Linked DNA regions of Homo sapiens: region 1 is linked to region 2. Evidence: fine-mapped expression QTL. A gene starts in region 2. The other region holds a variant in brackets. All regions are shown on one strand. Distances are between the middles of the regions.

The links. PIP is the estimated chance that this variant, and not a neighbour inherited with it, causes the effect.
Region 1: its variant is the best candidate, but not a certain one, in a credible set for the expression of ASB2 in whole blood (INTERVAL, PIP 0.67).

Annotation. Positions count from the first base shown.
Region 1 is chr14:93,944,228-93,948,518 of GRCh38, forward strand. ASB2 (ankyrin repeat and SOCS box containing 2) reads right to left here. Exons shown (of 10, transcript NM_001202429.2): 7 at 3,122-3,293. It overlaps MIR4506 (microRNA 4506), which reads right to left and starts at 4,075; the gene lies at 3,999-4,075. The variant T/C (reference allele first, on the strand shown) is at 2,200.
Region 2 is chr14:93,974,577-93,978,576 of GRCh38, forward strand. It overlaps ASB2 (ankyrin repeat and SOCS box containing 2), which reads right to left and starts at 1,994. Exons shown (of 10, transcript NM_001202429.2): 1 at 1,858-1,994. It overlaps LOC107984663 (a long non-coding RNA gene), which reads right to left. Exons shown (of 4, transcript XR_001750861.2): 4 at 2,849-4,000. RefSeq lists an enhancer at 475-1,046.

The DNA.
Region 1 (4,291 bases), 30 kb before region 2:
TCTGCGCTAACTCACACAGTTTCTTAATACGTCTATCTTTGGTGTTGATCTTTGATTTCATACGGTGGCTTTGCTAAACTGGAAATGAACAACAGGAAAATGCGTGTCTTGGAGGTGACTGCGACATCGGGACTTTAGGGCTCCTTTCTCAGCACACCCGCATGTCACCCCTTGCGGTTAAGTGTGCTGACGAGAAGACACCATCTGGCAAACAGCCTTCGGCTCCTGGTGCTGCCTTCCATGCCTGGGACGGATGGCCAGGGTGTGTTGGCAGGTGGCAGAGTGTGGAATGCCTATGGAATGTCACATCAAATCCCCGAGCAGAGGGCCTTTAATGCTGTATGCCCAGGGAGGGAGTGATGAGCTCGGGGCTTGCTGGCCATGGGCTCTGCCTGGTGGCAGAAGCTGCTGGGAACCAGGCTTTAACCCTTTGTTGCTTAGCCCTAAAAAGTGGCCCAGGCCCCTCTGAGCCTTGGGGGACAGAGGGAAATGGGGCCCGGGGGTGGAGGTTGAATAACCAGGGAATTCGCCCTGGGAATCCACGTGAATCCAAGGTAGATGAGTTTACAGGAACATCAGCCATGGACACAGTGTTCCAGGCAGGACGCGCCTTACTCTCTGATCATCCGCAAGGCCACCTAGTGCCCCTTCAGCTTCTCCTCCAGCTGGGGCCAGACTGCCAACACCTCTGGGTTCACTTGAAGGCAGCCCAGATGAAGGTCCCAGCCCTGCCGCTATCTCAAAAATCACTTCCATATCTGACCTTGGCTTCCTTCTCTGTAAAACCAGGGCCTGAATTAGATCAATGGTCCCTGCAGCTATAGACAGGCTGTATCTGATTTGCTCAGGGAGCTTTTCAAAGAGACAGTGGGGCTCCTTCTCTCCTGGAGATTCTGATTCACCGGATCTGATATGGCATTTTAAAAATAGCCCAGAGGGACATGGATGTGCAGGCTAGAATTGGGGGGCAGTGGGCCAGGAGATTTCCAAAGTGCACCCACTTCCCGTGTGTTCACTCTGGATCTCTCTGGGGTCAGGCTCAAGGTAAACTGTGTTTGCCCAACTCTGACTGATGCCCGATGATTTGTGGAACTCAAGAGAAAGGAGCCGTCTTGTCCATGCCCACTGCCTGGCTTGAGCTGCTGTCTGAACCGCTCAATCATGGAATGCACTCTCCCTAAGTAAGAGTGGGTGAGCATAGGACGCCTGAGCACACACTGGGTGCAGGCGCTCTGCTAGGTGCTTTTTTCCATTCTATATCCGTACGTATCCATTTTACTGGTCCTCCGACAACCCCATGAGGCGGGTGTAACCATTTCCCATTTTATAAATGAGGAAAATGAGGCTCAGCAAGGTTAAGCAACTTTCCCAATGGCCTCAGCAGGGATTCACACCCAGATCTGTCAGCCTTGTGGACAGCTGTGCTGTCCAGAAAAGGCTGGGTCTCCTCTGTGTATGTACTGGGGGGTGTGGGGAGTGGGGAGGGCATCTTTGGGTGGTCTTGGTGCAGGCAACCTGCACAGAAGGGGCTGGAGCTTTAAGGGGCGGCTCTGAAGCCTTGAGTCTTCATTTCAGTCTTTGGAATGTCACTTTGACCCCATTTCCCTCTGCCTTAGTGAAGACAACAAACATGCCCCAATACACGCAGTCTGTGCTTCTCACTCTCCTGCCTGTCTGGAAGATTCGGGTGTGTTTCCCCAAGTGTCATCAGGGTACATGAGATGGGATTTTAAATGAAATGTTTTTAAAATTGATTGTAAATGGATAACATACTAGTGTGATAAATGTTTCCTCTTCAAAATAAATTCATTGTAAGTAAAAACATTATTTAAAGGAAAAATTACTAAACGATGAGAGTATAGATATTTAAAATCAGGAAGAAAATCTGTGAATGGACAGTTTGGGAAGCACTGTCCAGCAAAAAGGGTCAGATGCTGGGGTTTAAGTCCTAGCCCTGGGGACGGGGCTTTCAAGGGGCAAATCTCTTAACTACCAGAGTCTTCGTTTCCTGTCCTGTAAAATGAAAATCCGGGTTGACCCGCATACCCGCAGCACAGTGTGAGGCTCACATGGGAGGCAGATGAGTCACACTCTGGAAATGACCAAGCCCTGTCCATCCTTCAAGGGCAGCTGGAGCTTCACCTCTGCGGCCCAGGCTTCCCCATGTAGCAGTGCTGCTGGGAATGCTTAAAAACTGGC[T/C]CAAGCAAGGGCAGAGAAGGGGGAAAGGACTCTGGTTTGTAGCATTTGCCTATTTCCCCATGTAAATATTCCCCCATGGCCAATTTTAAGCTATCAATGTGAGGTCAGTAAACACAGAGTTGGGAAGAGGTGTGCAGTCGGTTCCTGAGAACAGGCACGAGCTGGCTCTAGCACACCTCTGCCTCTAGCCCCGGCTCGTCTGTCTCCACAGGAGCCATGCAGCTCTTCGGCATGCTCTTTCATGATGTCATGAATTCACATGTCTGTGCTTCTTCCCTTCCTCCAGATTGCTCCTTGGGAACTTAAGCCTCTCTCTTCTCACTCAGAGTATCTAGCACTTAGTAATTGCTCAATAACTGCTAGTTCTTATCATTGGTGCTATTTGTGTTATTGTAGGTTTTCCTTGCATGCTTGCTAATTGCCTGGGAGGTTATCCTTGCATTCCTGTACTCCCGGAAATATTCATTAGCTCAGACTCATATCTGCCCCCCAGGATAGAATTCCTGTAGCTGTGACCTTTGGAGCAGGTGAGTACCTGCCGCCTATGAGCTGTGTGACCTTGGGCAAGTCACTCAACCTCTCTGTGTCTTAGCTTCCTCATCTAAACAACAGAGATAATAATATCCACCTCAGTGAGCTGTTAAGCAGATTAAATAAGTTTCTGATGTGAAGTACTGGTAAGCGCTGCATAAGGGTTTGCTGTTATTATTTCAGTTGCTGTTGTTACAGGCATTCACTCCATGTTGCTAACTGCTAAGGGGTTTCCCTCCTTTCCATGGGAAAGGTGATGTCCATTCTGACCTCTCCTGGGCCTCCCTAATCCTGTGGGTGGGACATTCAGGGCAGGCCCACCCCTCCAATCCCCTACTCCCAGTGTGGGCCTCGGGAGAGCTGCCTGGGTGCTGGCGGAGCCTGGGCTGACCTGTAGTTGCCCTTCTTGGAGGCGATGTGCAGCGGGAGCAAGCCGTCCTTGTTGGTCTTGTTGGCGTCGGCACCCTGTGACAGCAGAAACTCCACCACCTCCTCATGCTCATTCTTGCAGGCCTCGTAGAGGGCAGACGCGTTGTCGCTGGCCTGCGTGTTGATGTCAGCACCTGGGGAAGGAGAAGAGATCAGCAAGTGGCCAAGTGACCGGGAAGTTGCTGTCCTCAATGTAACGCCACCGCGTGGTGGGCCTGCTGTGCTAACCACGGTAATGCACGGGACCTTTAACAACGACCCTTAGGAAGGAGGAGTCTACCTGGGGCTACCCCCAGCTTCTTTCAACAACATCAAGACCTAGGGGCCTGGCCAGGCGTGGCTCATGCCTGTAATCCCAGCACTTTGGGAGGCTGAGGCAGGCGGATCACCTGAGGTCAGGAGTTCGAGACCAGCCCGGCCAACATGGTGAAACCCTGTCTTTACTAAAAATACAAAAATTAGCTGGGCATGGTGGTGGGCGCCAGTAATCCCAGCTACTCGGGAGGCTGAGGCAGGAGAATCGCTTGAACCCAGGAGGTGGAGGTTGCAGTGAGCCGAGACTGCACCATTGCACTCCAGCCTGGGCAACAAGAGTGAAACTCCGCCTGGAAAAAAAAAAAAAAAAAAAAAAAGACCCAGGGGCCTGCCAGCCCGAACAGAGGCCTCTGAGAGGCTACAAGCAGCCACGATGATGCTGGTTTTTCCTGAGCACCTACTACGTGCTGAACATCGTGCTTTCCACAGGCTATATCTGAATCCACAGTGGGTGGTCACCTTGTGAGGTCAGTACTGCTCTTATCTCCAGATTACAGATGGGGACAGTGAAGCACAGAACACCTAGACCACTTGCCTCAGACCACCCATTTCATAAAGATGGAGCCAAACTTGAACCCAGATGGTCTGATGGCAGAGGCCATGGTGGATATTCTGATGGTAGAGGCCATGCTCTTAACCCTCACTCCATGTAAGAGGGCCTGGGCTCTGCCCTGAGAGAGGCCTCACAGGTCTAGGAGGGCACAGAGCCCCTAATAAAGGAAAACCCCAATAACATTATTAATTGCAATTTGCTATTAATATTGCTATTATTATTGCTAATGTTACCATGCTATTAATATTGATCCTTACTGCTATC
Region 2 (4,000 bases):
GGTGCACGATGGTCCTGTTTACCACTGCCACAGTACCTTGAGAGGCCACAGGACGCTGTGGCTTTGAATGTGGACCTTGCAGACCAAAAGGTCAGATTCCTGACTCCAACACTTGCAGCCGTCCAGCCTTAAGCAAGACTTTTAAGCTCTCATAACCTGTTTCCAGACCTGAAAATGGGAGTAACGATCACCTGTAACTCATGGTAGCCTTGACCGAAGTCAGTGAGAGAAATCTGCACACAAGCTTGGGCCAGTGCTCAACAAAGGCTTGCTGGTATGGCCTGTGTTGTTGTTCACTGTGAGGTCACCGTGCGTGGGTTAGACAGTGTCCCCCACCCCCGCCACCACAAGGCACTCATGACCCGGCCTGTTTGTGCAAGAACAGATGATGCAAACCAGCATGGCACCCAGCGGAGCTGCTGCCAGCTTCTTGGGGACGCTGTGCAGCACATGGGCCTGCCACCAGCTGTCAGGACCCGTCCAACTGTTTTGGAAGTGCCTCGAGCATCTGCCACTGTCTGCCTCATGGTGCTTCTGCCCAGGCAGAGGTCAGGGCTGTGGCGGGGGTGCTGGCCCCAGCTGGCTCTGCCTGCGTCCCTCTGAGCCCCCTCAAGCCCTCGCCTCACGAAACAAGCTTATCTTCAGAAGAGCATTCCTGTCCTGTGCAGGGGCTCAGCTTCTGCCCTGCTTCAGGCCTTCCTCATTTACCTGCCCTCCCTAGGAGTCACCAGCCTCCTTGCCTCCTCATTCCAGTGCATACCCCTGGCTTCCCGAAGAGCCACCGAAGCCAAATCTCACATCCTCCAAGGGGAATGGGCCACTGAAATGAAAATGATTCTCCACCTAGAGGCACCAGAAACCAAGTCATGTTTCTGGGCCTCCACCTCTGGGGCCTGAGATGTGAACACACGGGTGGGAGTGTAGGTGCCTGGCTGTGTCCCTTCATATCCCAGATGCTCAATGCATGTGGCTATGTGCATGCCGTCCTCTGCTCAAAAACTCTCAGAAAGTGTTCCAACTTCTTGCTTGGCCTGGAAGGATGTGCCTCTCCCTCTGGCCTCCCCTTCTAGCCTCACCCCCATTTTTCACATGCAGAACCCTTTGCCAGAGCCACATTTCACTTTCCATCATCACCCCAGGTCCCTTGACTTCCCTGCCTTTGCCCAAGCTGCTCCTCCACCTGGAGGTCTCTGTTTCCACCCTGAGGCATCCCACCCATCCTTTCAAAGGCCATGGCCTCCTTAAATGTGTCATGCATATGCGTGTGCACACACATGCATGGTATTCTTGCATCCCTGCATTCCACAGCTTTGTTGGATCTCACATAAATAACATTCCTCCATTTCCTCTCCTAATCCCCAAACAGTTGAAAGCAGAGCACATGGCACCTTGGCTGCTATGGTCTCCCACAATACCGTGCATGCCTAGGCACTCTGCAACAGCTACATTAAATTAACTCCCACTCATGAAAACCTCTATCTGTGCGCCTGGCCTGAAAGCATTTCTGAAAGTCACTTGTCTGACACAGATACCGCCCAAGACCTACAGACCCAACAATAGCATCATTGATAAGTCCTTTTGCATTTCCATTTTTAGAAGTGCACAGCAGAGTGATATTCTGAGCCAGAGTCCTCCAGAAGAATGGGTAAGTACATGCAAATTGCTGAGTCTCTGTTCATTGCATCCAAAACGAAAGTCACCAGCGTGCTGTATAACTCAAGAAAATACGAGAGAGAGGGAAAAGCAACATCACAGTTTGACTACAAGCGGTTTCCAGTAAGTACTGCAGCCGAAAATCCCCACCAGCCAAAGAATCTTTTGCAAGATCTGTATAAGAAAGTTGAAAGCATGCATTACCTGTTAGGCTCTGAAACAAGGGTACAATTCAGGGGTAATACAAAGGATTTTCTTGAAAGTGTCTTAATTCAGAACATGCTCCCCGAGTTTTCCTTCTGCCCTGGCCCCAAGCTTCTGGCTGCTCTGCCAGGCAGTTCTGAAACGCTGTCCTTTGAAGCAGGGAGTTTATTTTGGGGCCACCGCATGACCAACGTTGACAAGCCAAACTATAAGATGTTATACATCTCAGATTTCCTGTTTGGAGGTTGCACTGAGGAAGCTGCAATCCTGCCTTCCGTTCCTCCGGGTGCATCGAATACAGACTCTCACTTCAGAGAGGATCCCGGAGCTTTGGCCCTCACGTGATGTCATCATTTGTGATCCTTGACATGGAGGCCATATATGGGTATGTTTCTGGAACTACCCAGGGGAGAGCCAGACAGGAGAGAGATGCAGTGGGTCAGAGACAGAGGCAGGGAACGAGGACGAGGAGACGCATAGTTGGGAGACAAAGAGTGAGGAGCAAGGGAGGAGGAAGAAAGGGGAAGAGGAGAAGTAAAGGCAACAAAGGAGGGAAGGCAAGACAGCAGGAAGGAAGAGGATGGAGTGAAAGAGAAGGGAAGAAGGGGAGAGAGGAGATGAAGGAGTTGACGTAAAAGGGCTTTGGAGAAATCAAGGTTTGGTGCTGAGCTTGTGGCAGCATTTGGGGATAGCAGGTGTCTGGCTGCTGGATACTGTGGGGTGGGGCTGGGGATACAAAGGGCCAGGGTACAAATGAGCCAACAAACAAACACAGAGGCATGCGGGCAAGCCCTGGGCAGAGATATACAACAGAAGAGAGCCCTTCCTCCTGGTCTAGGGAAGAACGTCCCATTTCTGGAATAGGTCAAATGTCAAAGACAACACATACACAGCCACATGCACTGAGCATCCGGGATGTGACAGGACATGGCCAGGCACCTACTCTCCCACCCGTGTGTTCACATCTCATGCCTCAGAGTTAGGGGTCCAGAAACATGACTTGGTCTGTTCCTCTAAGGGGAGAATCATTTTTGTTTCAGTGGCCCATTCCCCTTGGAGGATGTGGATTTATGATGGCCACAGCATGATTTCTCACTGATTCAAACTCAGGAAACCTCAGGATGCCTTTACACGCACTTCGAATATTCCACAAGGAAATACATCTCAGTATACAAGGTGCCACGGGGTTGAGTCAAGGTTCTGGAGGTCTGACTGGTGCTAAAGATGGGAAGGACACCAGTGGTCCCCAGGCAGTCCCCCAGCTTCCCTGGTACCTGCCAAATTGCTCATCACCCCAGCTGGGTCAGTCTTCCCAGGCCACTGTGGCTGGGTGGCCCTCAAAGTTAGCTCAAGTTCAGCCCCTTCCAGACCCATGTGCTATGGAGGGAGTGTAGGAGAAGGGCAGAGAAGGGGCTGTCAGATTCTTTTTACTTTTTGGAGACTCTGCTACCCAGTAGGATGTTCCCCGAGAGACGTCTCTGTGGGACGGCTCCCCGAGGCCGGGCTGCTTTCCTGGGCTCCTTGCTGGAGGCAAAACACAGGTTCCTCTACTTCCTGCCCACCACCTGCCCCTTCCCAATCTGACCTGGAAGGTGGGCTGTGGCCAGGCCAGGCCCCTCCTAGGTTGCCCTCTGCCTCATGGGCATGCACACATGCACACACACACACACACATACACACCCCAAACTCCATCCAAGATGTGTCTATTCCTTCCCTCCCCTTGAATATGGGGTGGCCTAGTGATGGACTTAACAATAGAATGCAGTGGAAATGATGTCCTGAGACTTCCAAGGCTAGGTCATGAGATGCTTTGTAGCTGCCATGTTGTGAGGAAGTCCAAGCAAGCAACACCCAGGGCCCCCAGAGCATCTAGCACCAGGCAGAGGGGTGAAGACACCCTCTCGGAGGTGGATCCTTCACCTGCAGCTGCCACAGCTAATGCCACGTGGAGCAGAGACAAACCACCCACAACTTCCTGACCCATAAACCACAAGCTATGATAAAAGGATTGTTTCGTGCCACTGGGGATTGAGGTAGTTTGATATGTAGTAATAATCAACCCAGACACTCACCAAATATTCACTGCGGTCTCAGCTGCATGCTCCTCAGCTCTCGTGTGCTACCCGTGAACTTTTTTCTGACT